Regions from separate parts of the Homo sapiens genome. Here regions 1 and 2 are each linked to region 3. Evidence: fine-mapped expression QTL. A gene starts in region 3. Each other region holds a variant in brackets. All regions are shown on one strand. Distances are from middle to middle.

What was found. PIP is the estimated chance that this variant, and not a neighbour inherited with it, causes the effect. A credible set is the group of variants that fine-mapping cannot tell apart.
Region 1: its variant is the best candidate, but not a certain one, in a credible set for the expression of CREB1 in whole blood (INTERVAL, PIP 0.89).
Region 2: its variant is the best candidate, but not a certain one, in a credible set for the expression of CREB1 in whole blood (INTERVAL, PIP 0.81).

What each region holds. Positions count from the first base shown.
Region 1 is chr2:207,500,094-207,510,899 of GRCh38, reverse strand. No RefSeq gene overlaps it. Among named protein-coding and RNA genes, the nearest start is that of CREB1, 24 kb to the left of the region's middle. RefSeq lists an enhancer at 7,302-7,361. The variant C/T (reference allele first, on the strand shown) is at 6,330.
Region 2 is chr2:207,445,801-207,456,606 of GRCh38, reverse strand. No RefSeq gene overlaps it. Among named protein-coding and RNA genes, the nearest start is that of CREB1, 79 kb to the left of the region's middle. The variant G/T (reference allele first, on the strand shown) is at 4,415.
Region 3 is chr2:207,524,973-207,535,778 of GRCh38, reverse strand. CREB1 (cAMP responsive element binding protein 1) reads right to left here and starts at 5,817. Exons shown (of 8, transcript NM_004379.5): 1 at 5,645-5,817. LOC124907970 (a long non-coding RNA gene) reads left to right here and starts at 6,182. Exons shown (of 3, transcript XR_007088060.1): 1 at 6,182-6,343; 2 at 7,166-7,262; 3 at 9,847-10,806. RefSeq lists enhancers at 3,099-3,598, 3,599-4,100, 5,689-5,788, 6,049-6,248 and silencers at 4,509-4,678, 5,389-5,438, 5,469-5,598, 6,269-6,448.

The DNA.
Region 1 (10,806 bases), 25 kb after region 3:
AAAGCCCCACCTCCTAATATCATCATATTGTGGATGAGGATTTCAATATATGAATTTTGTGAGATCACAAACATTTGGTCCATTGCACTTGGGTATTGTTTCAGGTGGCTATTTGGATTGAATATTACCAATTGATTCCAATTCAGAGTATAGAAATCAAACCTCATGGGTAATGCACTTTGTAGAATACTTCTTCAGCAAAGCTTATATCTGCCTGAATTGTACCATGTTATCATAGTGAGCACTCATAACATTTCATGGTCAAATTGCATTGGCCGGGAGTTTCAGTCTGAACAGCCAAGGTGCCAAATCTTTGTTTTGGTCAACAGGGTAGCCAATAATAAAAACACTAAGCCAAAATCATAGTTAAGGTTTACAGTGAATATCTTTGGAAAGTAATGCAATGACTTAGAGATTTTTCTCATTTGAGATGTTCTTTTACCAGGGATATATTCGGAGATAGAGCCTTCACTATAAGTACAAGACACAAACCCACTCTTAAATCAGCTTTGTAACATATGATGTATGATTTATGTGTTCTTAACACTTTGTGCCATCTGGTGGCTTCATATTTAAGTAATTTTTCTTGATAATTAGATATCAAGCTTAGTTGTTTCTACCTGTTAGAGAAATATATGTGTTGTCAACATGTAAATATAACACATTTCAGAACAGAAAATTCTTGAAAATGTTTGCTTGTGCCCTTTAAATTTTAGTGGGCTGATACAAAGCCTCCTTGCTCTCCCAATTTTAACTCTGCTCATAGAATTGCCTAAACTCAGTCCCTTACTGGCACACAATAAGCAATACACATTATGTTAAATAATTGAATCAAATAGATTTTGATCCAGAAGAAACATATAGCATAAGCCTAAAGGACTTTAGGGAACATAACTTAATGTACATTTTGGATTTGTAAAATAGGGCTCATCATAGTTATCTATCTCAGTCTCTATGAGAATTAATACAGGCAATATGAGTTGATATATGTAACAGTCTTTGGCACACGTCTTTTATTAATAGACTTTATTTTTAAGGAAAGTTTTTTTTTTCTTTTTTTTGAGATGGAGTCTCACTCTGTCATCCCGGCTGGAGCAGTGGCAAGATCTCAGCTCACTGCAATCTCCACCTCCCAGGTTCAAGTGATTCTCCTGCCTTAGCCTCCTGAGTAGCTGGGATTATAGGCACCTGCCACCACGCCTGGCTAATTTTTGTATTTTTAGTAGAGACAGGCTTTCACCATGTTGCCCAGGCTGGTCTTGAACTCCTGACCTCCAGTGATCCACCCACCCTGGCCTCCCAAAGTGCTGGGATTACAGGTGTGAGCCACCGCACCCAGCCCTAAGGAAAGTTTTGGACTTGCAGAAAAAGCAAGCAGATAATATAGAGAGTTCCCATGTAACCTCCCCACCCCACCCTACCCAAAGTTTCCTCTATTGCTGACATCTGACATTAGTATGGTACATTTGTTATAATTAATGAAGCAATATTGATAGAGTATTGTTTTGAACTAAAGTCCATAGTTTATTGAGAGTTTCTTAGTTTTTGCCTAGTGTCCTTTTCTGTTCCAGAATCCATCCCAGGATACTGTGTTATATTTAGTTGTCATGTCTCCTTAGGCTCCCTTGGCTGTGTCAGTTTCTCAGACTTTCCTATTTCTGATGACCTTGACAGTTTGAGGAGGACTGGTCAGGTATATTGTAGGTTGCTCCTGTATTGGAATTTGTCTTTGGCACATTTTAAAGCTTCTAAAAGTGTTTGTTACTGATATTATTGCTTCATATTCAGATTAAATGTGGAACAAAGCTAGGATATGGGCAGGGGATAGTTTTGTTGAAAATTTAGTATTTAAAAGATTTATTTTGAAGCATAGTCAATTTATCAGTGCCAAAAACGGACAAAATTTGGTTTGCCTACATCCATCCTTCCATCTTCCATTCAGTAAATATTGTGAGGATAGTGTGTATTAGATGCTGGGGATTCAATAATAAAGAAAATGTAACTGCTTTCATAGAGCTTCCAGACCAATAGGAAGAGAGTCAAACAACTAAAGAAATAATCTGCAAGATAACTTGTGACAATAAAGAAAATATTCTTATATTAAAGAACATCTTAGTAGGTGAGGGGAAAGGGGACTAACTTTATTAAGATCATGCATTAGGATATTATAGAGATAGAAAACAGAATAACAGGCTTAAACAAGGTAGAAATTTTCTGTTCAGGAAATCAGGGAGTCAGTTCAGAGCTAATATGGCAGCTCCACAGTGCCAGGGTCCCATACCCCTTCCACTTTGTTGCTCTGCTGTGCGTGGATTAATTTCTCAGCATCATCTCTTGTCTAAGACTATTTCTGGGGATCCAGCTATCACATCTGAATTCCAGCCATCATGAAGCAGGAGGAGTCAGAGAAGATAACTCCCCTTTTCACATTTCTGTTTACTTTTTGCTGTTTTGACAGAACTTTTTATTTTACTTTTTGTTGTTTCTGTTTTGACAGAACTTAGTCAAGGGGCCTTATGCAGCCACCTTACCTAGTCTCTTTGTCCAGGTGGCCATGTTTACCAGCTAAACATCAGAGGTTTTATTGCTATACTGGTTCTCACGCTATGGCGTGCATCGGAATCACCGGCAAGACTTGTTGAAATACAGATGACTGGCCCTCATCCCCAGTTTTTCATTCAGTAGGAGAATAAGAATTTGCATTTCTGACAAGTATCTATGTGATGCTGATAATGCTGGTCCAGGACCACATTTTGAGACCCATTGCTGTAAAAAGGGAGCATGGCCAGATACAGTGGCTCACACCTGTAATCCCGGCACTTTGGGAGGCTGAGGTAGGAGGATGACTTGAGCCCAGGAGTTTGAGACCAGCCTAGGCAACATAGCAAGACCCCCATCTCTACAAATAATAATTTTAAAAAATTATCATGCGTCTGTGGTCCCAGCTACTCAGGAGGCTGAGGCAGGAAGATCACCTGAGCTCAGGAGGCTGAGGCTGCAGTAAGGCTTGATTGCACTGCCACACTCCAGTGACAGAGTAAGACCCTCAGGTGACAGAGTAAGACCCTGTTAAAAAAAAAATGAAAGAAAGGAAAAAAAAAAAAAAGCAAGCATGGATATTGAGGGAACACTCTCTGATTTGGACCATGATATGGACTTTGATCATTTACATTTTTTGTACTGAGACAGACTATGCTTTCTTTTTTTTTCTTTTTTTATTTTTTAGATGGAGTTTCACTCTTGCTGCCCAGGCTGGAGTGCAGTGGTGCAATCTTGGCTCATTGCAACCTCCGTCCCCTGGGTTCAAGCGACTGTCATGTCTCAGCCTCTCGAGTAGCTGGGATTACAGGCACCCGCCACCATACTCGGCTAATTTTTGTATTATTATTATTTTTTTTAAGTAGAGATGGGGTTTCACCATGTTGGCCAGGCTGGTCTCGAACTGGTGACCTCGTGATCCACCGCCTCGGCTTCCCAAAGTGCCGGGAGTACAGACATGAGCCACCGCGCACGGCAAGACAGACTGTGCTTTCTTAGATCAGGTATCTGGTCTTTGAGATGTCTGTTCTGGGTAGCTTTATGCAATTTAGTCAGTTTTGTATAAGGTCTGTTTTCGTTATCTTACTGCTATGTAACAAACCACCTCAAAGCAAAGTAGCTTAAAACAGTCATTTGCTTATGACTGTGGATCTGCAATTTGAGCAGGACTCAGTGGAGCTCATGCTGGGAGTACAGGCATGAGCCACCATGCCCGGCGAGACAGACTGTGCTTTCTTAGATCAGGTATCTGGTCTTTGAGATGTCTGTTCTGGGTAGCTTTACACAATTTAGTCATTTTTGTATAAGGTCTGTGTTTTCGTTATCTTACTGCTATGTAACAAACCACCTCAAACAAAGTAGCTTAAAGCAGTCATTTGCTTATGATTCTGTGGATCTGCAATTTGAGCAGGACTCAGTGGAGAAGTCTGGCCTCTGCTCTTCATGTGGTGGCTGGCCTTGACTGGATAGAAGGATCCAATATGGCCTTCCTCACATGTCTGGAACTGGCTGTCAACTGGGGCACCTCGGTGTTCTTCTAGGTGACTCTCTAGCAGTACAGCAGTATACCCTGGACTTTCTTACATGGAGGCTTGGAGCTCCAAGGGGGCAAGATAGAGGTTCTAAAGCTTCTTTAGAAAGCCTAAGCCTAGCAATTAAACTGAGTCCTTTCTGCTAGAATCTCTTGGTCGAAACAAATAATGAAACCAGCCCAGATTCAAGAGGAGAGGAAGCAGACTTCATCTATTGATGGGAGGAGTGGCAAAGTCACAGCAAAAAAGAGCATGCAGTGGGGAGGGATTATTATAGCTATCTCTGCAACAGACTGCCACAGTCAGAAATGAGAATGCCAGTATTACAGTAGGAACCTCATATAATTGTCATGTGGACATAGACCTATCATTTATTGGATTTTATCCCTATCAGGACCAAAGTGTAATTTGGATAAAACACTTCCAAAATATTTTGGTTTACTAATAGAAGTGTGGCAAGATCAAACAGGGTTTTAGAAAGGTTTGTTGGTTATTGAAAAAATGTTTCCATTTCTTCACTGATAAAAAAGTTCAAAAATGGGGACAAGTTGAAAATAAGTTCATAAATATTTTTCTGCTGGTCTTCTTTAAATACATGAGTATTTTGATTGAAAGTTGATGTCAACTTTTGAAAGTCAGCATTTAAAAAAATAATGTTCTACCTATGCAATGTGAATTTCCACATAAAAGAGGTCATGTTTATAGTCTGTTTTTATATGTGGTATAATTTAGAGTATGAGAAAGAGACTCCTCTTTCCCTCCCCCATCCAATGAAATTTTTACCAGTGCCTGAAATATTACCAGGAGTGATTCACTATTTGTTTCAAGCATTGCTCACTTTCACTGGGTTTTAACATAGCAAATATTTCTTGGAAGGAAAGGACAGGAAGTAGCACTGTGGTATGAATAATTTAGAGAAGCATTCTTTCTGAGGTTCCTGGGTGTCTTTGGAGGAAGGCGGTTCTGAAAGGCAGGAGGTGGGTGTGGTGGAGCAGGGGAGGATGAAGAATGTGGGATAGAGGTACTGAGCCCACATTTCTCTACCTCACATAGCCTGCTGCTTAGGAGGCATGATTAGGCTGATGTGATTCTGAACCTACTTTTTATTTTGGATAGAACATATTGTACCTATAATATGGTATTCATGCTCTCTTTGTGTTTTTTCCTAAACACTTTTCCACAAAGGGTATTTATTTACCCTTAAAATTTTATCTCCAGTAATGTGCTTTAGGGCCTTTCTCTTATAATAACTTTTAGCTTTTGTGATTTTCCTTTGGAACTAAATATCCCTTTGAGCCTGTCCTTTTCATCCTATTTTCCAAGGTCTAAGACACAGTCCTGGCATTCTAGGGGCCTCTGAAATTGCTGGTCCACTGTGGGAAAATCCCGGCTTGGGCAGAGTCAGTGTTGTTTTGTTCGCCAGGTGTTGAATAGACTGCAGAGTGAAGCTGCCTCACAGCCTGTGTTTTCCTGGTTTGAATAGCAAGCTTAGTTACTTCATTGACTTTCTTAAGGGTACCCGGTTCCTCCTTTTAATTTATGCCTTTACCCAGTGAAAACTAAATCCAACTCAGAAACCCCTCATAATTTTATTCTAGGGAGTTACTTTTGTTTGAGGAGCTAATATAGTTACAGGACTGTGATTTTATTATTCCCACAGAAAGCAAAAAGCACGAGCCTGTTCTGCGGTTCAGATGAAAAGCTCTGTGACTAACAGGATTCTTTCTTCCTTTCTTTCTTTTTTTGGGTTCCATTTCTCTCATTAGCTGCCAGGTCGTTTCATGACAGTTCTCCCAGCTGAAGTGATTTATCACGTAGAGTGAAGAAGTGGGAACTGTGTCGTTTCTTTTTACCCCCTGACAGTGGGGCTTCTCCTCCTGCTGTCAGGGCACGCCAACAGCCCATTGCTTTGGTGGTATGGGCTGAGGAAAGGAAGCTTGACTTGTAACTATTGCGGTTCTGCAGAAGGCCCTGGCATGTAGGGCAGTGAGCCAGTGGCTGCAGTCTGCCTCCTGGTGCTCCCTCCTAAAGCCAAAGGCTCTTGGAAGAAAAGACTTAGTTTTGCAGCCAAACTAGAGGTGGAGGTCTTTCTGCGGTAGTCATGGTAATCTACTCAGTATAGATTTTATAGTTAAGCAGAGGCTGCCGTAAGGAAAACTGGGGCCAGAGCTGGACGGGCATTTGCCTCTTGAAAGGCTCTGCCTGTGGCTCCTCCTCCACCCCCAGCTGGCTGATAGGATCCCCAGGAATATCCACAGG[C/T]TGTTGAAGGCTCCTCGGTGTTAGTGTCCCATCCTGTCTTCCTTAGTCCCTCTTTTCTCCCCAACCATTTCATATTAGCAAGCACATTTTTTTTTAAACTTTTAAGTTCAGGGGTAATAGGTTACGTAGGTAAGCTGCAGGTTTGTTACACAAGTAAACTTGTCTCATTTCATCACCCAGGTATTAATCCTATTAGGTATTTTTCCTGATCCTCTCCCTCCTCCCACCCTCCACCCTCCAATAGGCCCCAGTGTGTGTTATTCCCCTCTGTGTGTCCGTGTGTTCTCATCATTTAGCTTCCACTTATAAGTGAGAACATGAGGTATTTGCAGTGTGACGAATCCAATAGTAGCTTACAGTTATGACAACAGCTGAAGAAGCTGGTGATAAAGGCATGTTTTGTCTTGATGTCAGTTAGAGGTCTACCTGAAAAATAGGTGAGCCATAGACAGTGAATAAATCAAACAAGTGCAAATTTGATAACAAGATGGACCAATAAGTTGTCAATAAGTGGAGAACAAATGTAATACAATTCCTGGTATTCTCTTGGAGAAACCTCTGCTTATGAGTCCTCTAGCTTTCAGCCTCTGTGCCTGGGCTCCATCTATATATCTAGACTCATCCCAGTTACTGAGCCAGTTATGACAAATAGGGAATATGTCAGTATACCAGAAAAGTATAATCCAGAAAAGAGAAACCCTGCTGAGCATTTGAAACAGAGGGAATATGCAGGGAACTGGTTATACAGGAGACAAAAGAGCTGAGAAGCCAAACAATGGATGGTGAGATAATCCAAAGAATTGTGATAGCAGAAAACCAGTACCACTTCTAAACTGGAGGTCAACAGGGAGGAGGTCGTATTTTTTTTTTTTTAAACCGAAGAGGAGGCACTAGGGTCATCTGTTGGGAGCTGGAGCCAGAGAAGAGATGCTGAGATACTGCCCAAGGCAGAGAGGGAGGAGGAAAAATATCCTGGGAAATACAGCTTGCAGTGGTCAGTCTCCTGGGACCCAGAGAACAGCAGCAGAGCGTGAGGACTGGCCCAGGCAGGAAGCCCCATGCAGTGTGTGCATGGGAGGGAGGGAGCTCAGAATCGAGTCTTGGCTGGGGGTGGACCTTGTGTCCACAGTTCTAGGGATGACTACTGCCTGCTGTGAAATCTACCAGTGGCAGCACCTTCTGTCATCACGAGGTCTGGTAGGGTGTGGTGGCTGAGAGAACTGTATCGTTCTTGATAGACATGTGGGTCCCATGGACATAAGCATTTATTCAAAACTAAGTGAGCTATAATATTTAAATTATACCTTGATAAAATATGTATTAACACACACGAAAAGCATCAGGCTCTGGAGTCACACTGTCTATGTTTGCTCCTTATGAGCTATTATGAACTGGACTGTGTCTTCCTCAAATTCATGTGTTGTTGAAGCCTCAGCCCACAATATGACTATATTTAAAGATAGGGCCTTTAAGGAGGTAATTACAGTTAAATGGGGTTCCTAAGGGTGGGACCCTAATCTGACAGGGCTGGTGTTTTTGTAAGAAGAGGAAGAGAAACCAGTGATCTCTTTCCACGAGTGCACAGAGAAGAGGCCATGTGAGGACATAGAAGAAGGTGGCCATCTGCAAGCTGAGAATAGAGGCCTCGCCAGGAACTAACCCTGCCAGCACCTCGATCTTAGATTTTGAACCTCCAGAATGTCAAGAAAATCTATTTCTGTTGTTTAAGCCACCCGGTCTGTGTATTCTGTTATGGCATCTGGAGCTGACTGATATATGAGCTATGTGACTGTGAGCAAAACACATATATTCTGTCTGCCTTAGTTTCTTCATCTGAAAAATGGAGATGATAAAAGTTCCCTCCTCATGGGGTTTTTGGCAGAATTCAGTGAAATATAGTTTAAAGCACTTGGCATGTAGACATGTAGTAAGTATGCCATGTAGCTTTTACTATTCATAAGCCTGAATTTTTGCCTCAGTATCCCTGCCCAGAATCTGGGTCTTCCCTGTAAATGGATGCTGCCTCCCAATTCTCTAGCCCCACACAGGATTTTGCCAGTCCCCTCTCTTGCTGTTCCTGGCACACTCCACCTTTCATTTCGGGTTCTGCTAGCACCACTCAGAACTGTCACCTGCTTTCCTTTTAGCTGTTTGCACTCCACTTGCCAACGTCATCTCCACCCTGAGATTGTCATGTCCTTATGATTATGTGCTTTGACCTATCTACCAAGTGGCTCATGGCTGAGCCAGCCTCTGTATCCATTTCCCATAACCCCATTCTCTCTGGTCCTGGTTCCATCCCATCAGCTTGTGTGCGTAGAATGGTACCCCATATTTCCTGCTTCCTTTAGCATTTAGGCTTTTTATACAGACTCATTGACCTGTGGCAACTCTAGATTTTTCTCTCTAGAAATGTATTGGGTTGGAAAGGGGCAAGTGGATAAGCTTGTTTTGAAGCTGCAGTTGCAGAGCAAGATTGCTGGTTTAGGTTTTGTTTTTAAATTTACGTCATAGGCTTACTTGGGTTGGATTTTAGGGGAAATTATCTGTGCACGTGGGGCCGTGGTCACAGGCCAGTTGGATACAACTTCCCAGCATCAGTCCTTCACTCAGCAAATTGTTACTGGTTTTATGTGGGCATTGGGACCTGTGGTTGTCTATCTGAGGTTTGTTGGGTGGTTTGCAAGCAGTGGTTGTCAAGTTTTCAGTGATTCCCTATGTGTATTTTCCGTTGCTGTATACCTCAAACTTAACAGCATCAAATAACACACATTTATTATCTCAGAGTTTCTGTAGTTTTTAGACTTTTAAAATTGCAAAATGATACAAGCTCATTATAACAAGTTTAAACATTGAGAAGTTTACAAAGTACAAATGATACATATGTCCTCCTTACTCCCCTCTATTCTGACTCTCCCCAGAAATAACTACTGTCAACTGTTAAGTGTATCCATTCCGATTTTTTCTATGCTTAGATGAAGACACATTCACACTCATGCACCCACTTTTTTCCCCACTTTTTTTTTTAAAACAAAACAAAACAAAACAAGAATGGCTCTTACTTAAATTAGGCAGGACTCTTGTTTGCAAGTGATAGAAATGCTGTGTGAAATATCTTAGGCAAAAAGAGGAATTCACTGCCAGAAGAATTTAAATCACAGGACTCTCTCTCTCTTTTTTTCTCTGCTTCTGTCAGATCAGCACTGTCCACAAGCTAGAACTGTGGTCACCAGGAGCTGCCTAGCTGACACCCTCAGGCTTCCCCATACGGAGAGCTTGTTCCTCTGCCTTCTTTTCTACATAAAATATTCCCAAGGAGGTCTTCAATTGGCCTCATGTATCATGGGCTGGGTGCAGTGGCTCATGCCTGTAATCCCAGCACTTTGGGAGGCCGAGGCGGGCGGCAGATCACCTGAGGTCGGGAGATCGAGACCATCCTGGCTAACATGGTGAAACCCCATCTCTACTAAAAATATAAAAAATTAGCTGGACGTGGTGGCACATGCCTGTAATCCCAGATACTCAGGAGGCTGAGGCAGGAGAATTGCTTGAATCCAGGGCGCGAAGGTTGTGGTAAGCTGAGATCGTGCCATTGCACTCCAGCCTGGGCAACAAGAGTGAAACTCCATCTCAAAGAAAAAAAAAAAGTACCTTTGCTGCAAGTAACAGAAAACCCAATTAAGAGTGACTTAAACAATAGGGGCTTATTCTTTTCACAGAACAAGATATCTAGAGGTAGTTGGTCATTATGTGGCTCAGTTGTGCCTGCATTCTGGGTCAGCTTCTCTGAAGCTCTCTAGGTCTTGCCCCCTGGTTGCCACATGGATAAGGCAGCTCTAAACACCATGTCCTCACTTGACAATGTCTTTCTTTTTTTCTTTTTTTGTTTTGTTTTCTGAGACAGGGTCTCGCTCTGTTGTTCAGGCTGGAGTGCAGTGATGCAATCACAGTTCACTGCAGCCTCAGCTTCCTGGATCAAGTGATCTTCCTGTCTTGGCCTCCCTAGTTGCTGGGACTATAAGTGCACACCACCATGCCCAGGTAATTAAAAACATTTTTTTAGTAGAGACAAGGTCTTGCTATGTTGCCCAGGCTGGTCTTGAACTCCTGAGTTAAAGTGATCCTCCCAAAGTGCTGGGATTACAGGCATGAGCCACCAGGCCTGGCCAGCAATGTCTTTCTTAATGTGGCTTCTCTCAAAAGCAAATTCTGAGACAAAAGCTTGTATGCACTGACTTGGGGAGGTGACTGCAGGGCGTAGGGGCAGGGATCAGGGCGGGGAGTGGGGGAAGCAGGGAAAGAGGGGCGGCTAATAGAAAGGTTCATTACTGAGCTGGACAGTGCCGTGAGTAACTGGTGCTAGATTTTGCTGGGACCTCCTGGGGGGCCTTGTGCAATGCATCTCAGAACTGTCAACCTGGGGGATCAAAGAGGGAAGCATTTTTCTGTCAATACTCACTCCTCTAACTAAACAATA
Region 2 (10,806 bases), 79 kb after region 3:
TTTTAGTAGAGACGGGGTTTTAGTATGTTGGCTAGGCTGGTCTCAAACTCCTGACCTCGTGATCAGCCGGCCTTGGCCTCCCCAAGTGCTGGGATTACAGGCGTGAGCCACCATGCCTGGCCAGTAACCTTAATTTCTAGTGAAAACTAGCAAGCATTATAAACTCTTTTATAACAGCATTCATCATTTCATAATTTCTAGAAGCAATTTTTCATGTTTTTAACCAACTTCAATCTATTTAGCTTCTCTGTACTATATAAAAACAAGATGCCAAAGTACATAAACTTGTGCCTAGTAATTAGTGTTTCAATATTTTTAACTTACTTAGAAGTGACCCAGATATTTAATAAGTATCTATTACTTAATTTCATTTTAAGGTTTCAAGTTACCAAAAAGATTTTAAAACTATTTTTAACTAGACATATTTTCTAAAACATAATTGTTATTGAAAAACTTTGCTTATAAACTATTATCCTACTTATATTCATCTAATTCACTCATTCTTTTTTTTAAGTTTCAAGTTTTAATTTTTGTGGGTATGTAGGTGTCTATATTTATGGGATACATTAGATACTTTGATATAGGCATGCAATCCATAATAATTACATCATGTAAAATGGGATAGCTTTCCCCTGAAGCATTTATCCTTTATGTTACAATCCAATTATGCTTTTAGTTATTTAAAAATGTACAATTAAATTATTATTGACTACAGTCACCCTGTTATCAAATACTAGGTCTTACTAATTTTTTCTAACTTTTTTTGTACCCATTAACTCTTCCCACTTCCCTACAAGCCCCCTTCCCAACCTCTGGTAATCATCCTTGTACTCTCTATCTCCATGAGTTCAACAATCGTTTTAATTTTTTTTTTTTTTTTTTTGGGGACAGACTCTCGCTCTGTTGCCCAGGCTGGAGTGCAGTGGCACAATCTCGGCTCACTGCAACCTCCGCCTCCTGGGTTCACACCATTCTCCTGCCTCAGCCTCCGGAGTAGCTGGGACTACAGGTGCCTGCCACCACGCCCAGCTAATTTTTTGCATTTTTAGTACAGACGGGGTTTCACCGTGTTAACCAGGATGGTCTCGATCTCCTGACCTTGTGATCCACCTGCCTCAGCCTCCCAAAGTGCTGAGATTACAGGCGTGAGCCACCACACCTGGCCAATCATTTTAATTTTTAGCTCCCACAAATAAGCGAGAACATGAGTTTGTCTTTCTGTGCCTGGCTTATTTCACTTAATACAATGAGTCCCAATTCCATCCATGTTGTTGCAGATAACGGGATTTCATTCTTTTTTATGGCTGAATAGTACTCTATCATGTAAATGTACTACATTTTCTTTATCCATTCATCTGTTGAGGGACACTTAGGTTGCTTCCAAATCTTAGCTATTGTGAACAGTGCTGCAATAAACATGGGAGTGCAGATATCTCTTTTTTTTTTTTTTTGAGATGGAGTCTCGCTGTGTCTCCCAGGTTGGAGTGCAGTGGCGCGATCTCGGCTCACTGCAAGCTCCGCCTCCCAGGTTCATGCCATTCTCCTGCCTCAGCCTCCCAAGTAGCTGGGACTACAGGCGCCCGCCAACACGCCTGGCTAATTTTTTGTATTTTTAGTAGAAACGGGGTTTCACCGTGTTAGCCAAGATGGTCTCGATCTCCTGACCTCGTGATCCGCCCGTCTCGGCCTCCCGAAGTGCTAGGATTACAGGCGTGAGCCACCGCGCCCGGCCCAGATATCTCTTACATATCCTGATTTCCTTCCTTTTGGGTATATACCTAGCAGTGGGATTGCCTGATTGTATGGTAGCTTTATTTTTACTTTTGTGAGAAACCTCCAAACTGTTTTCCATAGTGGTTGTACTAATTTATATTCCCACCAACAGCATACAAGGGCTCCCTTTTCCCCAAATCCTCTCCAGCATTTGTTGTTGCCTGTCTTTTGGATAAAAGCCACTTTAACTGGAGTGAGATGACATCTAATTGTAATTTTGATTTGCATATTCCTGATGATCCATGATGTTGAGCCATTTTCATATGCCTGTTTGCCATTTGTATGTCTTCTTCTGGGAAATGTCCATTCAAATTTTTTTTCCCGGCCAGGCGCAGTGGCTCACCCCTGTAATTCCAGCACTTTGGGAGGTCAAGGCGGGCGGATCACCTGAGGTCGGGAGTTTGAGACCAGCCTGACCAATGTGGGAAGCCCTGTCTCTACTGAAAATACAAAATTAGCCAGGCATGGTGGCACATGCCTGTAATCCCAGCTACTTGGGAGGCTGAGGCAGGAGAACCTCTTGAACCCAGGAGGTGGAGGTTGCAGTGAGTTGAAATGGTGCCATTGCACTCCAGCCTGGGCAACAAGAACGAAACTACATCTCAAAAAAAAAATTTTTTTTTTTGGCCAATTAAAAATACGTATTCATTTAGTTTTTGAGACAGGGTCTCACTCTGTCACCCAGGCTGGTGTGTAGTGGCACAAACACAGCTCACTATAGTCTTGACCTCCCAGACTCAAGTGATCCTTCTGTCTCAGCCTTCCGTGTAACTGGGACCACAGGAGTGTGCCCCCATGCTTGGCTATTCTTTTTTTATTTTTTTTTAGAGACTAGGTCTCACTTTGTTGCCCAGGCTGGTCTCACACTCCTGGGCTCAAGCGATCCACCTGCCTTGGCCTCCCAAAGTGCTGTGATTACAGATGTGAGCCACCATGCCCAGCCTTGCCCATTTCTTAATTGGATTGTTAAATTTTTGCCTATATAGCTGTTTGAGCTCCTTATATATCCTAGTTATCAATCCATTGTCAGATGGGTAGTTTGCAAATATTTTATCCCATTTTGTTGGCTGTTTCTTCACTTTGTTGAGTGTTTTCTTTGCTGTGCAGAAGCTATTTAAGTTGATGTGGTCCCATTTGTCCATTTTTGCTTTGGTTGTGTGTGCTTGTGGCGTGTTACTCTTAGATTTGCCCTTTTGAGGCTATTTTCTAGATCTTGTAGGCATGCTTCATTCTTTTTTATTATTTTTGTCTTTTGTCTCCTCTGTGCATTTTCGTGTAGGCTGTCTTCAAGCTTACTAATTCTTTCTTTTATTTGATCATTTCTGTTGGTAAGATACTCTGATGCTTTCTTCAGTATGTCAATTGCATTTTTCAACTCTAGAATTTCTGCTTGGTTCTTTTAAATTATGTCAATCTCTTTGTTAAGTTTATCTGATAGAATTATGAATTCATTCTCTGTGTTATCTTGAATTTCTTTGAGTTTCCTCAAAGCAGCTATTTTGAATGCTGTGTCGGAAAGGTCACATATCTGTTTCTCCAGGATTGGTCCCAGCACCTTATGTAGTTCACCTTATTTAGTTCATTTGGTAACTCACTCATTCTTTTTTTTTTTTTTAAAATAACTAAGTGCTTTTATTTTATTTTTTGATTTTTTTTTTTTGAGACGGAATCTTGCTCTGTCATCCAGGCTGGAGTGCAGTGGTGCAATCTTGGCTCCCTGCAACCTCTGCCTCCCGGGTTCACATCATTCTCCTGCCTCAGCCTCCCGCATAGCTGGGACTACAGGTGCCCACCACCATGCCCAGCTAATTTTTTGTATTTTTAGTAGAGACGGGGTTTCACCATGTTAGCCAGGATGGTCTCGATCTCCTGCCCTTGTGATCCGCTAGCCTCGGCCTCCCAAAGTGCTGGGATTACAGGCGTGAGCCACCACGCCCAGCCAGTAACTCACTCATTCTTAACAATTTTATGTGAACTGTTCATGACAATTTTATGAGACATCAAACAAAGCTAACCTCTGTCTCAAGTTGTTTTTGTTGTTGACAAATCAGGCAAGCAAAATATCATAGAAGCAAAGAAACAAGAAAGTTAAACATGGTTCTTTCCTCTTTTTTTTCTCCGTGACTGATGTGCATCAAGCAATTCAGGAATTCATTTTTACTGTGTATTCTGTTTGAAGGTTGCGTTTATAATTTTATGACCTTAACCATCTAGCAGAGACAATACACCTGTCTGGCCAGCAAACGCAGGCAAAAATATATGTCTGTATTATATTTAATGACATAAACATACAGATAGAAGCAGATCTTACATCTTTTACTCTAACACTTTTAGCCTTGCACCAAGTCTGATAATTCAAGACTCACTAGCTAGACCTGATAAATGATACAAGTTAAGATTATCTGCTCAGATGGCTAAAGCTTTTTTTTTTTTTTTTTGAGTTGGCGTCTAGCTCTGTCACCCAGGCTGGAGTGCAGTGGTGCAATCTCGGCTCACTGCAACCTCCGCCTCCCAGGTTCAAGCGATTCTCCTGCCTCAGCCTCCCTAGTAGCTCGGTCTACAGGCGTGTGCCACCACGCCCGGCCAATTTTTTGTATTTTTAGTAGAGACGGGGTTTCACTGTGTTAGCCAGGATGGTCTC[G/T]ATCTCCTGACCTCATGATTGGCCCGCCCTGGCCTCCCAAAGTGCTGGGATTACAGGTGTGAGCCACCACAGTTGGCCTGGCTAAAGCTTTTTTACTAGTTTTTTTGTGGAAAAGGCTTTTAAGATTTTTTATTTGACCAATTTCTAAACAGTTCAGTTTTTTTCTTTTTGATGACAGTCATCTCCCTGACAGTCATCTCTTCTGTATCTATGGATTCTGCTTCTGTGGATTCAACCAATCAGGAATTGAAAATATTGTTTTAAAGAGCACGCATCTCTACTGAACATGGACAGACATTTTTCTTGTCATTTTTCCCTAAACAATATAGTATAACAACTACTTACATAGCATTTACATTATATTAGGTATTATAAGTAATCTAGAGATGATTTTAAGAATATGGGAAGATGTGCATAGGTTATATGAAACTACTATCTTATTTTATATCAGGGACTTGAGCATCCATAGATTTTGGTATTTGTGGGAGGTACTAGAACCAATCTCCTGTGGATATCAAAGGACAACAGTATTTCCAAATGGTAATGATCAAATTCTAGAGAAGAAAGGGTAGAAAATTTATATCTCAAAGGCACAGAGAAAGAATGCAAGTTTTTCCAAGAAGGAGTTTGAGGTGTGTCAGTTAGGTGACACATAGAGGAGGACTCAAAAGGATTCTGAGGCGACATAAAATTATAGGAATTCACTACAGGATTCTACAAGGATGTACATGGATAGTCCTAGGAGAAGGTCCAGAAGCCCACCTAAAGTTTGACTATAGAGACTGAAATTTTTCTTACCTTTGGTGTTTCCTGTTAGTAATTTTTCATCCACTGACCACTAAATGGAGGAGGTAAGGATTTGAAGGAGAATAAATCAAGGATTCGAGAGAACTGGATGGCAGATTGTAAGTGCCAAAGGGAGGAAGGAGGAACAGAAGCAAATGGAAAGAAGTCTTACAGGAGCTAGTTTGGGGAGGTCTCAAGTTTCCCAAAAAGGTACATGAATTTCCACATTATCCTCAGCGAAAATCATGCCAACAAGAAAAAAAAATGTGGACAGAGGGACTGACCATATGGTTAGCAGGGGTTCAGTAAGAGAGGTTTCAGTAGACTGAGACGTTCCTGTGATAGAAGCAGGATCCAACAGACAGAACAACAGAGGGGACTTAACAAAAATTGTAGCCTGAATATCAGCTTCCTATTAAGCTAACTTCTGACCATAGAGCTCTTAAAAAAAAAATTATTTCAAATATCTTATAATTTCAGCAAAGGCAAATAACAAATATGCCTGGCCTTTTTTCTTCTTATTTTTCTTTCTTTTAAACTGGAAGTATCTACCAAGAGATTCAGAACCAAAGCCAGTAAGTGTTTTTGGATTTATTGGACAGGACACACTATGAGGAATCAGAATGAACAGGCCTTGCTAAGTTTCTTTCAGAACCTTAGTTCATACCCTTTTGTCCTGTCATGTTTTTGCATGACTTTTCACTCTTTATCAAACCTGGTATAAAAACACTTCAGCTTAATCGTTTCTTTGGGTCTTCATTTTCTGATGAAGGCTCCTGTGTCATGTAAAACTTCCATTAAATAAATGTGTATACTTTTCTCTTGTTAATCTGTCTTTTGTTAGCCTAATTTATAGAGTCCCACCTGGAGAACCTAAGATGGATAAAGAGACAAAGAGATTTTTTTTCCTCTATCCTACAGTACATATTAAAATGCAGGTAATTATGTTCTTTTTCGTTTTTGAAAAAAGCTCAAAATGCCATGTAAGTGCTTAGTCCAGGAAGGAAAAAGCTTTATAATCTACTTTGTTCATGAGATGCAGTAACAATAAGCAGAACATCTGTTCTGGAAGCATCTGTTATATCAATTACATGGCAAATTTTCAAGTTCTAGAATGAATGAATTTGTAAGTGGTGAGAATTTTTGATAACCAAGAGAAGACAGGATCTAGAGAAGAGAGCAGGTAATGAGCTGAGAATATAGCATGATCTTGATGGTGTCTGTGTTTTACTGCAACCTAGAAATTACGTGCTTTTACATGCAATATTTTTTTCCCCCACAAAATGGTTCCCAAATAAACAGTTAAAGTGGTTTTAGGTGATTAAAGCAATATAGAAGATTAGTTTTGTTATATATAATCACCTTTGCTTCTCCTTTATTGATGAAAAGAGCTTTTCTCAGTAGGTTGTGTTATCTATTTTAGATATTGCCTGATCTTGTTTTTTAAATGTAAATCAGCTTTTTAATCTTTTTTTATGTAAATTTGATAGCCAGTCCCAGCAATTATTCTGCTTTGTTGTAGCTCCCTCTTTAGAGCTGTCTCTATTTTATGTTTAATTGTCCTAATTGTCCAAATTTGAATAAACCTGGAGAACAGCAATGGAGATCATTACTTGTTTTTAAATTTACAAAAAGGTTTAAGCACTCCTTCCTGAACTTCTCTTTAATTCTTTACACTGTTAATTATGATCTGGGAGATTGGAAAACCTTATTATTGTCCCTGGAGCTGCTACTCCAAATTATAGGTTTGTTTATTCTTGTGTTACTACTTTATATCAGACTTCTCTTTCTATGAACATGATAAAAAACTCATCAGAGAAAATTTGTTAACTTCGCTTTTTAATCAGTCAGGATTTTAGCAAGGGGGTATTTAGGTGAAGAGGTGTATTAGGTAGTTTTAGAGGTTGGAGCAAATAACTGCAGTCCTGGCAGGGGAATTCGTCCATTTCATCTCTCCATTCCTCCACCTACTTACCTATGTATCAATGTATCAATTTTTGGAGGGCTTGAACTGGATGACATATCAATTCAATGGGATTATATTCTGACTTAATAATTTTTAGAAAATAGTAGATTAGATTCTAGGTCAAAACGGTCTGAATTTTGAAGTTGATTTAGCTCATAATTAAATTTGAAAAACCAAATACAGGAGAAAACCAAGAAGGTCTTATCTCAGTTTATTGAGTTCTTTATAGTTTGGGTTTTATGCTTTGGTTCAACTCAAGGCCTTGGTCAGGAGGCAGGATACTTGATTTAGCAGTTGAGCATGAGGCTCAATTATATCTAGTACATCTATGTCCAGCGCATCTATGTCTGGTACAATGTCTCTAGCTAGAAATTTTTTTTCTGTCATCATGCTGAGAAGCCATCTTTAATTCATTCACAGGTTCACTAAGCAGCTAGGGATATTTGGAATGAACAGAATGCATGTTAATTTCTGGTGAATCTGACATGCTAGATTGGATGTGCTCAGTTATCAGTGAGAGAAATACTTCGTATAATATAGGAAGTCACATATAGATACGCAGATAACTAACTTCACTGATTTTTGTGGCCACACCTGTTCAGGACTGCCTAAAGAGATTGAACCTGGCGATGACCTTGGACAAGTCTCAAAAACTCTCTGAGGTTAATTTCCCCATCTATGAGGTCAGGAATAGGAATAATTCTCAGGGGCATAATATAAGGAGAACAGACAAGCATCAGTGTTTTAGAGAAGCTCCATTATCATACACAAGGTCAGATCAAATGAAAATGAAATGTTCTCTTATAGCATCTCTGAGTTTCAGCAAGTAAATTCTAGTCATGCTTTGTATTCACAGACAGGAAATGTCTGTTCAGAAGGAATGAATAATAGATAACTACTTTCTTTGCTTTACACCTAGTTATAATTCTACAACTAACATAATATTAAATGAGTTCCCTTCCTCCCAGTGATGTTTCATATTCTGGTTACATACTGTAACCTTAAAACTCAACAGCATGAAAAATCAAACAGCTGGAGAAAATGTATCTTTAATTTTCCCACCAATTTACCACCCCCTGCCCTCTTGCTCCAGATTATCTGCCCAATTCTTAGATAAATGGTGTATTCTAAGTCCGTCTACCCTCATAAAGATGATGGACCCCAGCCAATCTTAGGTCCAGTTTCTCAGATCCAGTTTTTATTTGCTGGGTTTTAAAACTAAGGTTTGCTTTGACAGTGGTGTGTTAAATACCTCATGTGCTGAATCATACCTCAAATAAAGCTAACAAAATTTTTTTTTTGTAATTGCATGTTAAGTGTTCATTTTTGGTGTTAAGTAATTCATGAGTAGTAATTTATGTTTAGTAAGAAGTAGTAATAACTCTTAACCTGGCTCATAAGAATTGTAAACTATGTTATTATATATGATATATTACCAGTAAGAAGAAAGGGAATTAGGGTGAAAGAATGACATAATTTTGACCTGGAAGAAATCATGGACAAAATCTTATTAACTGTTCATTGAAGCAGTGAGGGAACAACGGGTCTGGAGGAGAAATGACTTGTTCAAGGTCACACAGCTGGCTAGCTTCAGAGTTGGCCCTAAAAGTCACAGTTTTTGGCATCTGGTCCAACACACTTTCCATCACAACATGCAGCCTCTTAGTTTGTTGGTTTTGGGTCAGAAATATAATTAACACAGGGCAGGAAGCCTAGATTATGAAAGAGTTGGAGGAGAATCTAATGAAAACCAAGCTTTTCTGAAAGTCCTGGGCAGTTGACCTGTTCTGTGATATATTCATGGTGTCCACCTGCAATTGGAATTTGGCAAGTGGCTCCTCTTTCCTCTTTGACCTCCTAGTTCTCTTCCTAGACTGGTGATTTAAGAGCTTACAGAGAGTGCACAACTTCTAGAAGAGTGAGAAAAGTAATATAATAATAAATAGCAGTAAACAAAAAAGTACAGAGAAAGAAAAAAAAGAGAAGAAAGTAGTACAGTAATAAAAGTACAATTTCAACAATTCTGATGTGAGATGATGAAGCAGTGGACGGGGAATACCCATTCCAGAAGTTGAGCTGTGATAAAGAAAGAAAAGTAGGATGTGGTGTCTAATGATAATAAAAAATAATGGCAGCTTGAAAACCAAGATGCTGTAACTACAAAAGGAGCAGGGTTTAGGGTTCTGATGCAGACCCATTATCCACACAGACGACATGGGCTGCAACCAAGTCACAGGGGATTGTAAATCAACCCCATACCCACACAGATCCTATTTAAACGCACACACACATATAATACATACATGCATGTATATATATATTGTAGGACTTTCCCCTTGGTTCAGCTAAAAGCTGGGTTCTTTTCACACAACCTTGAAAGATTAGGCTCATAGATGCTTTGAAGGGTGAGAAGGGCAGGGTTTACTGGGTGAAAAGGAAAAAACGGGAAACAGGGACTCTCAGCAAAGTGAGAGTTTTGCTAGCAGGCTTCCCGCCTCACAGATTGATTTCCAGGTACGACCCCAGAACAGGAGAGGCCAGGCTCCTCCCCACTGCAAACAGCAGGAACTTCCCGAGGCTCCACCCCAGTGTGCGCTTCTCCCAGTGCGCAGGCTGGTTGGAGGTTCTCCAGTGACCCCTTTATGCTTGGCTGTCTCCTATATACATATATGTACATAGGTTTGGTTCCCATACCATAGTGTGGGAGTCTTTAGTTACCTGTATAATATCCATTGATAAAGAACATCTCCAGGAATTGTTTGAGATGCCTAATGGAACTCCTTAACAATTACAGTCAAGATTCCAAGAGAGGTAGTGAGGTAAGTTGCACCTCTTACAGGATGGCTTATTCTGCATTACTCTTTGTTCAGACCTGCTTAGTAATCACCAGTGTGCTCTCACAAGGTCCTGGGCTACTGGCTCTTCTGTCTTGATAGGCACTCTTGGAAAGCTTATGTGCTTATGTTGTATCAGTTAGCATCTGTAAAAATTATCTTCCAATATTCTTCTTTGATACTGATTTTCTGGGGAGGGGGACTGTGATGAGAATGTTGTATGGGTCTGATGACTCAGTCATTCAGAGGATGACCTCATTTGAGCCACCATTTGAAAGTCAGAAAACTGGATGTTTTAAGTAGTCTAAAACATGATCATTCTTTTGGTTATTGGGTTATATTACCAAATCCAGTTGACACCAATGTATAAATCAGAATGCCATCATTTAAATATATGTGTTTAATTATCTTAATATATTTATATTTTTATAGTTTAAAATTATTTATAGTTTAAAATAGTAAGTTTCTAGTTTAAAATATAAACATAAATTATGTTTATACTTTAATTAGTATATTAACGTATATTTAATATATACTTAGATTTCTATTGACCTGATTATATGCATCCTCCATCCTAGGAAGCATCTTTCTGATATCAAGTTACCTGAGAAGTGAGTTTTAATCAGAATGCTACTTGGTGAGCATAGAGTTAAAATTGCTCTGGGAGAGTGTTTTATAGAAACTCTAGAAAAACCCAGGGAAATATGCCTACTCCACAATTGTATATACTGTTTTAATAACCAGGTAATGGAATCCCCAAACACATTTTTTTTAACTGTTGAAAGCATGAGTTGTTTTGGAACAGA
Region 3 (10,806 bases):
ATGCTGTTTCGAAAAGCTAGAGGAAAAAAAAAAGGTAGTGAAACGCATTTTGTGCTTTGGCTGAAATACGTATTACTTGGTCCAACTGGTTGACCAAAGGTTTCCCCACGGGGGTAAAAAAATCATCTATGCAGTAAAGTTTATCATCTCAGCAATCATATAGGTGAATCTCACTATTTTTAAATTTAGGTACAAAATATAAAACTCACATAATTACATTAAGAAATACTAGAAAATCGTCAAGGTAAGTTAACAAGTATGTAAAAAATAAATGAATGCAGGGAGAAATCTAGTATAGTAATCAGCCTTACTGGGTAATAATATCCCATGAGCTGTCTGTTAAAAAAAACCCAAAAAAACACCGGACTATATGAAATGTTCTTTCTCATTAAGAAAGAAAGCTATAAAAACCTTTTGGGCCAAAATAATAATTGAAAGAAGTAGTCTGTTCAGAACTGTAAGAACCTCAACAAAAGAGTTAAATTCACCTTGTGAGTTAACTCTTAACCTGGCTTGCTTGCCTCCTCATGTACATTTTGATCATTTTACTAAAACTTTTAAAAACTGGAGTTAAACAGGAAATGAGGGACTTTAAATAACAATTTCCTGTCACAAACTATTTATTTTTCATTCAAATAGAAAGTTTTTCATTTAAAGAAATAAAGGCAAGATGGCAGTTTCCCTTAGTTTAAAAGGTAATATAAGACCTAAGAATAAAAGCAGCTCACTAACTGGTTAATACAGTCTACTTACATAATAAAATGCTTCCAATTGTATGTTAAAAAATGAAGAAGCTCTTTATGTGCTGATACAAAATTGCTAAGCCATATTAAGTGGTGGGGGTAAAGCATGATATAGGAGAGCGTATACCTAGTATGCTACCATTTGTACAAAAAGGGGGAGACTGTACATACATATTTGCTCGTGTTTGCATAAAACACCTCTTAAAGGACAAATAAAAAATTGCTAACACTTAGGTAATAGGGCAAGAGAATGTAGGGCATTTTGCTGTTATTATGTTTTGAATTATAGATCATGTGAATGAATTACTTATTCAAAAAACCAAATTAGAAATATAAAAAATATACTCCTCACTTCACCAAAGGTGATCCCTTTTTCCTTTGACTGCTTTCTTTTGACACATATTTTGCCTTAGTCACTGTGTCCCCAACAGTTCCTGAGGGTAGAGATAAGACAGCGTAATTCATCTTTGGATTTGTTGTAGCTTCTGACCCACTGTATTACATATAGTAATAATAAATAATTTAAAAAGTAACAGACCAGCTGGGCGTGGTGGCTCACGCCTATAATCCCAGGCATTCAAGACCAGCCTGACCAACATGGTGAAACCCTGTCTCTACTAAAAACACAAAAATTAGCCGGGCGTGGTGGTGCATGCCTGTAGTTCCAGCTACTAGGGAGGCTGAGGCAGGAGAATCACTTGAATCCAGGAAGCAGAGGTTGCCGTGAGCTGAGACTGCATCACTGCACACCATCCTGGGCAACAGAGCAAGACTCCGTCTCAAAAAAAAATTAAAACAAAAGAAAAAAGCCTTGTCAACACTTGAGCACTTGACACTTGCACAATGCCTGGGACTTAGTATGTATTACTTTATAGTTAACCCCCACAATTCTGAGGTAGTTGTTCTACACTGATCAGAAAGGAAAGTGAGGTATTAAGAAGTTAAGATAACTTGCCTAAGGGCCCACAGGTAGGAAGTTAAAATAAAGCTTAAGGGACTAGCTATCATTAGTTGTAGCCCTAAGGTACTTTATGTTTATCTCGCAATCTTATGAAATAAGTAGTAGTATTCTAATTTTACATATAAGGAAACTGAGGCTGAGAAAGATTAAGAAACTTCCTTCAGGACACAAAATTCCTTTAGGGTGGGTACAGGATAGCAGTGGCAATGCTTGGATTCAGACCTAGGCCTATGATTCCAAACCTCATGCTCTTTCAACTACATTCTCTGTCACAGTGAGTGCCAAATAAATATTTGAATTACCATAAACTGCTGTCTCAAGTGATACTGCAGTACAGATGAGTTTACACATGGGTAAGAAAAAAAAAAATCCTGCATTTTTCCATCTTGACATCTCATTACATTCTTAAATTTAGATTTGAGCTCTATTCAATAAAGAAGCCATCAAAGTTACACCATATATCAAGATATTTGCAAAACTATGTCACAAGCTGGCTGTAAACAAGTTTATGTAACTCATATCTGATAAGCTATTTATGGAATAAATGAAATTATAAATTTCGGTAATATATTGTAAGCATTAGGTTAAAAATAATTTTCTGTTATAAAAAGTAGAATTTAAAAACACGTGAGGAAGACATACTTGGTTTTACTATAACCCCATAACCATACTGTATCCAAACAAACAAAACCAAATGTCTTAGAATGAGAGAGAAATAAAGCTACTTCTCTATGAAGAACCCAAAATTTCTAATAATGAGACCTAATCAAGAATATGAGTTTCAGAAAGTAGAAAAAGGTGCCATTTTTATGGATCAGGTGTCTAAGTTTCTTCAGGCTCTTTATGTAAACAAAAAAAAAATCATTCAAAACAGGTAACACTTAAGTTTTAAATTCCCAAAGAAGTGTTCTTTTAACATTCTTCAAGCAAACTCTGTCAAGTAATTTATTAGCTTTCTAAATGTAGGTGTTCATGAAAAAAAAAAAAAGATTCAAGCAGATCCAGCTGTAATTTTTATCCATGGCTGGAACAGTGCAGAAGTACAATTTAGTAACATGTTCCAGGTGAATGTTCAAGTATTAATGAATACAAGTTTGAAGTTTCACCTGGAATTGCTAAGAATCACAAATTATGAATGTATAAATAATAAAACAGGCCGGGCGCGGTGGCTCACACCTGTAATCCCAGCTACTCGGGGGGCTGGGGCAGGAGAATTGCTTGAACCCGGGAGGCGGAGCTTGCAGTGAGTGAGCCGAGACCAGCCCACTGCACTCCAGCCTGGGCAATAAGGGCCAAACTCCGTCTCAAAAAAACAAATAAATAAAAATAAAAATAAAAAATACAATTTAAAATATCTCTCGGGCAAGACTAAAGAAAGAACTTATCAGTAAACTTTTTTTTTTTTGAGATGGGGTCTCGCTGTCACCAGGCTGGAGGGCAGTGGCGCGATCTCGGCTCACTGCAATCTCCACCTCCTGGGCTCAAGAGATTCTCCTGCCTCAGCTACCCTAGTAGCTGGGATTACAAGCACGCGCCACGACACCCAGCTAATTTTTGTATTTTTAGTAGAGACGGGGTTTCACCATGTTAGCCAGGATGGTCTCGATCTCTTGACCTCGTGAGCCGCCTGCCTCGGCTTCCCAAAGTGCTGGGATTACAGATGTGAGCCACCGCACTCGGCCATCAGTGAACAATTTTTTAAAAATCTCACAAATGAAGAGTCATATATTCTTTCTTTTTTTTTTTTTTCTTTGAGACGGAGTCTTGCTGTGTCGCCCAGGCTGAAGTGCATGGCACGATCTCAATTCACTGCAACCCCAGCCCCCCGAGTAGCTGGGATTACAGGCGCGTGCCACCACACCCGGCTAATTTTTGTATTTTTAGTAGAGATGGGGTTTCATCATGTTGGCCAGGCTGGTCTTGCACTCCTGACCTCAAGTGATCCGCCCGCCTCGACCCCCCAAGTGCTGGGATTACAGGCCTCAGCCACCGCGCCCGACTTATATTCTTAACAAGAAAAAAAATTCTACTCTACTGATAGTGGCTTGCGGAACAACATAAAGGAAAAATGGTAAGCTACCATTATCAATACTATAATTTTTTCAGTGCTCGGAAATAAAATCATTTCCCCAATCTTTATAGAAAACCTGCCTTTATTGCCTCTTCTTAATTTTCTTGGAAATGACAAATTGCCAATGTGGTCTTTTAAAGAGAAGCAATACAGCAAAGCACGTTTTGGAAAAGTGACTAGAATACAGAAAAATAAGACAGTGCTTCTGCTGCCAATCAATATTTGTTCTTAACCAGAAGGTTTGTACGTATCAATCACAATGCAATCATACAGTGACAGACAAGTATTTTTAAAACAAACTTGTTCGTCTTTTGCACCACCTAAAATAACTGTTCGGGGCTTTACTTTTAAATCACGAAATGAGCCATAAATGTAAAAGATTTCAATAGGCAGCAATCAAAAGTATCTTCTACTAAACCTTCAGAAGTTAGACGCCAGCTGAGGTTAGAATTATAACTTGAGATGGTATTACAAACTTAAATAGGTCATACCGCACGTCCTTCAAAAACTGTCTTTTAATTTTTAATGTGTCAATGACTTTTCTGCTGTCCTCTTTTCCCAACAGGCGAAGAAAAAATACAGCTTGTGGCTTAAATTGTCAATCTCAAGACGGGGGTTACCTACTGCATGAGACAAATAATGGATACTTTAATGTCTATTTTTAGTAGTAGTATTAAATCAATCTCTCATTAAAGTTCACACAGAAATTCGTGGGAAATATGGTAGGGGGAGTGGGACGGAGGGTGAGGGGAGATCCAGATGACCCAAACGCGGTTGGCAAGGTTGCACCCCGCGAAATGATGTAAAACAAGAGTACATCGGCTGATACTCGTTCCAACGAAGTGTTTCAGAATGATAGATCTCAAGTGATGATTACCTTATTAAAAAGGGTTAAAACCGAAACTGTTTTCAAACACCAGCTTCCCTTTTATAAGATCCCAACAGTTTAAAAAGTTATTATAAATGTTTTTCTTAGCACCCTTTCTCCCAAAAAGCATGCATTTCCATGACTGACTTTAAAAAAAAAAAAAAAGCAAAGGGGTGAGGGAGTCAAAAATTCCCCCCAAAAGCACAAGCTCTCATCTCTCAACTAAGCAACACAGGGCAGAAAGCAGCATTTCCTCAACGGTGTAGGAGCGGGGGGGAAAGGGCACGAATAAAATACAGCACGAGAGGAAACCTTGGGTTTCGAACTTTATTGCACAAAGAGTGGAGAGAAGAGTAGGTCAGACGTTGCAGCTCTTCCCCTTGCGAAGCGGGCATGGCAGGCACCGAAGCCACCGGGAAGGCAGCAGGCACCTTCACCTCCTCTGCCCTCAACTGTCGCCTTCTTCCTCCTCCATCCCCCACCGGCACCTAGGCGGCGGCTGCCCCGGAGGCCCGGCCGGGTCGGGCCGGGGGCGAGGCGGGCGGCGGGGGCCGGACGAGCGAGCGGCGCGGGGGGCAGCGCCGGGCCGAGCGGGCGGCCTCCCCCGGGGCGGCTCCGGGTTCCCGGCTCCGCGCCCGGCCCGGCGGCGGCGGCGGGAACGCGGGCGCCAGCTCGCCGCGGCCGGCCGCCCGCACACACCCCCGGCCGCCGGCTCCCACCCCGCCCGCCGCCCGCCGCCCGCCGCCCCCCGCCATGAGCGCCGCCGCTGGCTGCAGGCAGAGTCGCTGCCGCCCCGGCCGCCGCTGGCTCCAGTCCGCCGCCATTATTCTTTGTTCGCTGCGAGCGGCGGCGATGTTGTGGGGCTCGGGCGGAGGCTCCATCTTTACCGCGGCCCCTCCTGCGAGGGGAAGGCCCCAAGCGCGGGTGTCCGGCGCCTCCCCGTCCCCCCTCCGTCCCCCCGGCTCTCTCTGGCTCCTGCCTCCTCCTCCTGCTCCTCTTACCGGTGGTACAAGCTCCTCCGTCACTGCTTTCGTTCACGGCCCGGATCTCGCTGGAGTTTTATTCTCTCCCCCACGTAACACACCGCGTCAAACTACACCTCCGCCGCGTCACTCACCAACACTCCGCTTCTCCCAGCCGCCCGGGCCACAGGCAGCAGCAGCCGCCGCCGACTGAGGAGCCGCAGCCAGGGAGCCAGCCAGCGCCGCCCAGTGCCGAGTGCGCAGCGGCCGCGCACGGAAACAGCCGAGCTAGGCCCGGAGCAGCTCGAGCGGCCCCGCCCCCGCGCTGGGGACGGAACTTGCCGAAGACCTTCGGGTTTCTTCGGGCGACGAGAAGGGGTTCCGCGGGGAGAGGGAAGGCGAAGGCGGGCTGAGCCCGGCGCCGGGAGGAGTGGTCTAAACTCCACCGCGGCTTTCGCATCGGTAAAGCCGGCAGCGGAAATTTGAAGGAGGAAGCGGGGTTTGTGTGTGGCCCAGTGGGGGAATTCCCGAGGGGTGTCGGCGACTTGGTGGAAACCCCCGCTCAGGCCTGCCCCTGCGGCGGTGAGCGGCGGGCTAGAAGGCGGCTGCGGCTGCCCTGGCTCTGCTCTTGACCGCCGCCAGCCCCGGGAACTTTCCGACGCCGCCGGGAGACGGGGGACGGGCAGCCCGGGCTGGGACGCGGCCGGACCGCTGGAGCCGTGCGGGCTGGGGAAGAAGGTCTGCTGCGCCTCTGCCAACGTCCCGGGGCCTGGGACCCGGGGGCGTCGTGGGACCCCCGTGGGGACGGGTTTTCCTTTCCGAGACTCCGCGGAGAAACCTGGCGGCCGCCAGCGGAGCATGCTTTTCCGGGGGGCGCTGGCCCCGATACTGTGGCACCTTGCGGGGCTCTGCCCGGACCATGGCTGACGTCGACGGCCCTCGGAGGCCTCCAAGCCACACAACCTGCCCGGACCCCTGGAAATATGCCCCATCCTACCTCCCCGCCTTTCTCCAGACAACATCCTGTGTCGCTTTCTTTCCTCAGCCTGTTTTCTACAGCAGGGATTCGCACCCACTGCACCCTAAACCCAGCAGGGGGACTTCCGTGGCTGGAAACTACTGAATTGTTCTTTCAGAGGTCTCTCAGGACGGCACCACTAGGTCCCCATTCTCCTTGATAGTGAACTCTGCAGCCCTCTCCTTGGGGTTTCAAGTCTTTTTTTTTTTTTTTTTTTTTTTAATGAGACGGAGTCTAGCCCTTGTCGCCCAGGCTGGAGTGCAGTGGCACGATCTCGGCTCACTGCAACCTCCGCCTCCCGGTTTCGAGCGATTCTCCTGCCTCAGCCTCCCTAGTAGCTGGGATTACAGGCACCTGCCACCACACCTGGCTAATTTTTGTGTTGTTAGTAGAGACGGGGTTTCACCATGTTGGCCAGGCTGGTATGGAACTCCTGACCTCAGGTAATCCACCCGCCTCGGCCTCCTAAAGTGGTGGGGTTACACGTATGAGCCACCGCGCCCGGCCTCAAGTCTTAATCATTCTTTTTCTGTCCTTTAAAGGAGACGTGTCTTTAGGAAGCAGAGAGGGTTCGATTCTGGACTCCGCCCATGACTCACTTCTCTTGTAAAGAAAGAGTTGTCCTTCCTGGTACTCCAGGTACCCTACTGTTTTCTTATGGACTTTGCCCTTAACGAGTCTCCTTTCCTTCTGTTACTCTCAACCTTTCCTTCTCTACCGGCTCTTTCTTACTGGTATTTAAACATGCTTAAGTCTTTCAATTCTTTAAAAAGATTTCTCTTCTCCCTAAATTGCTCTCCAACAACTGCAGCTGTCTCTTACCCCATGGACAGTCTTTCATGTCCCACCTCCCAGCCCTCTCCAGTGTCCCCACCGCTCACCTGAAGTGGCTCTGAATTGTCCACAGACAAGCTTCATGACTGTAAATGCAGCGGATCATTTTCAGTCCTCATTTTACAAGCCCTCATCCCAGTATTTGACGCGATTGACCACAGTTGCTTCCAAATACCCTCTTCCCTCTGGTCTTATGTCCCAGGTTTCCTCCCTACCTGAGTTTGCTCTTTAACAACCAGCTCCTCCTTGATCTACCTCTTACACATTGGAATCATGCTGAGCTGAACCCTGGCCCTCTTACTGAGTCTCCCCATACACTTTCCTAGGTGGTCTTATGCTCTCCCAGCAGCATCAAATACCCTCTGTCAAAGACTCTTCAATCCATAACTCAAGCCTAGATCTTGCTCTGGAATCCTACATTCATAGTTCCCAGCATACTGCCTTTGGTACACTTTCATTTGGATGACTTAGGGCATTTCAAACTCAACCCGTATATCATAATTCCTTCAAAACGCTCCTCCCATAGTCCCTGGTTCAGTAAAGGGTATCTTAACATCTACCCAGTTCATGCCAGAAACCTAGCACACCTCCAACACACAGCAGAATCACCTACATCTGTCTGCTCCCTGGAAAATTGGATTTGTGACCTCTCTCTGTTCCCATGACCATTTTTTCATTCCCATTCTAGTCTAAACCACTGTTGCCTCTTGCTTGAAGTCCCACAGTAACCCATTCAGGTCCTCCAAAACTGCTCTTGCCTCGTTCCAATACATTTGCCATACTGCTGCCAGAGTAATTTTTTAAATATAAATCTGATCATTGACCTGCTTAAATTCCTCCAGTGGTCTCCCTTTGCTTACCACACATTGTCTAAGCTCCATTATCTGTACTTGTCTTTCTCTCCAGCCTCTCCATCTGTCCCCCTAGCTGCCTGCACTCCTGCCATAGTATTTTAATTTTTTCCAGGCTCTCCTCTTTTTATTCCCTACTGTAGGCTCTCACTTCAGGGCATTTACACATGCCCTTCCCTTCCCCTGGAATTTTTTTCTGTCACCCATTCCTCCTACTTAACTGTAACTTATCACTTTCTTTTCCAATTCCTACTTCTCATTATTTGTTTAGTGTCCATGTAATTGTGCAGGTAAGGACCACGTCTGTCTTGTTCACTACCAGCTTTTCCTCTCCCTAGCAACAGCACAATGTCTAGAATATAGTGGTACTTGTTAGGTATTTATCGAATAAATAGTGAATTTCTGAGTGGTCCCGGGCAAAGTTTTCTCAACATTTGAATTCAAATCCTGGCTCTCAGTGAGTTCAGGTTGCCGTAGTAAAGTACCATATAGACTGGTGGCTTATAAACAACAGAAATGTATTTCTCATAGCTCTGGAGGCTGGATATCTGAAATCAGGCTGCCAACATGGTCAGGTTCTGGTGAAGGCCCTCTTCAGGGTTGTAGATGGCTGTTTTTTCCCTTTACCTCACAATGCAGAAAGAGAGCAAGAGCTCTCGGGTTGCTTTTATAAGGCACTAATCCCATTCACAAGGGGTTTACCTCCCAAAGGCCTCATCTCCTAATACCATCACATTGAGGGTGAAGATTTCAAAAATACGAATTTGCAGGAGACAGGGGTGGGGGTGAATTCATTGCACTGGCTCAGCCACTTATTAGCTAATGACTTTGGGCAAATTGTTCACTCTTGTGCCTCAGTTTTCCCATCTGTAAAATAAAGATGATAATAGCACCTCATAGTGTTATTGTAATGATTACGTGACATAATACATGTGAAGTATACTTGGAACAATGTTAGGAAAAATGTTGCCTATTACTAGCTTTTACTTGGATAGCTTATCCTCGTGTCAAATACGTTTTCAAAATTGAGTTCATCTTCCTGCTCTTCTTACCGTGGCTCTATACATGATATCAAAAAACTTTGGAATTATTTACTCATAACCTATAATTATCACCCACCAAATATGGTGAGTTTTTATTTAAAAATGTCCTCATATTCATTCTTCCTTTTTATATACACTAACCTTCATTTAGACTCTATTATCATTGATTATTTTGCTAACTTCCTAGGTGTCTTCTAACTGGAGGCTAGCTTTCCCTATTCATTTGGGCCCTTACTGTCAGACCAGTGGGCCTCAAACAATTATTAAAACATATATTCTTCTTGACTTCTGCTCAAATGACCTCCGTTCCCACCTAACTTTGTTCATTCATTTATTCAATCATCCATTCATTCCAATGCAAGTTATTTTACTACTAACATTTTGGGTATACTCTAGATTTTCAGCCTCTCTACTTTGACATTTCTCTCTTGGATATTCTCTCTTCGGATATACTCTAGCATTTTCAATCTCACTATCTGACATTTCTCCTTTCAGCATCCAAGTTTTGTCTCTGGGATTTGGAAGCCACCTGCATTTTAAAAGAAATTTTTTCCAGGATCAGTCTCTCGCTGTGTTGCTCAGGCTGAAGTGCAGTGGCTGTACACAGGAGCGGTCATCGCATGTGACAGCCCCACACCCCTGGGCTCAAGTGACTCTCTTGCCCTCAGCCTCCTGAGTAGCTGGGACTACAGGTGATCCCCCATTTTTGACTCAGTTTTCCAATTGCAAAATGTGGTCAATATCAGGGAGATGAAAGAGGAGCACACATGGATGTAACTTGATAGAGTATAAGAAAAGTATCTTGAAAGAGGTCCAGAATAGGGGGAAGGTCCCATAAGATGATTATAAAAGGCTTCAAAGAGAAAGTAGTATTTGAGAGCTTTTCTATAATCACAACTTCCTCTTCCTGTTATTTTTTGCTCATTTCTGCTGTCGAATATAATTTTCACCCTCACTGTGAGCTCAAGTTCCATGAACCCTGCCTGCCCTAGTTCATCACCTCCTGTGATTTGCTTTCCTACCTAACCCCAAGACCATGGTGACCTATTTCATTTATTCTAAAAATATCTGTGGAGCACCTCCTTTGTGCCAGGCATTCTTCTAGAGACTGGGGAAATTATGAATAAAACAGATTGTCTTTCCTCTCAAATGTCCTAACATTTTCAACTTCTCTACTTGGGAGGTAAACCCCTTGTGAATGGGATTAGTGCCTTAAAGCAAGGAGGGGGATATATTATGGGTTTCTTTCTTATTTGGTAAGATTTCCTATAGTCTTAATATAATAGATAGCAATAAATAAATACTTCTGGGTGAGGAATTAATTGAAATCCTCAGTATCCCTCTATTTATAATGGCTAAAAAAATGTGAATGACCCAAATGTCCCCATTACTGAATAGATAACCACTTAATTTGTTTTTGTCTCTTTTATATACATGTACCACTCTTAACTCTTA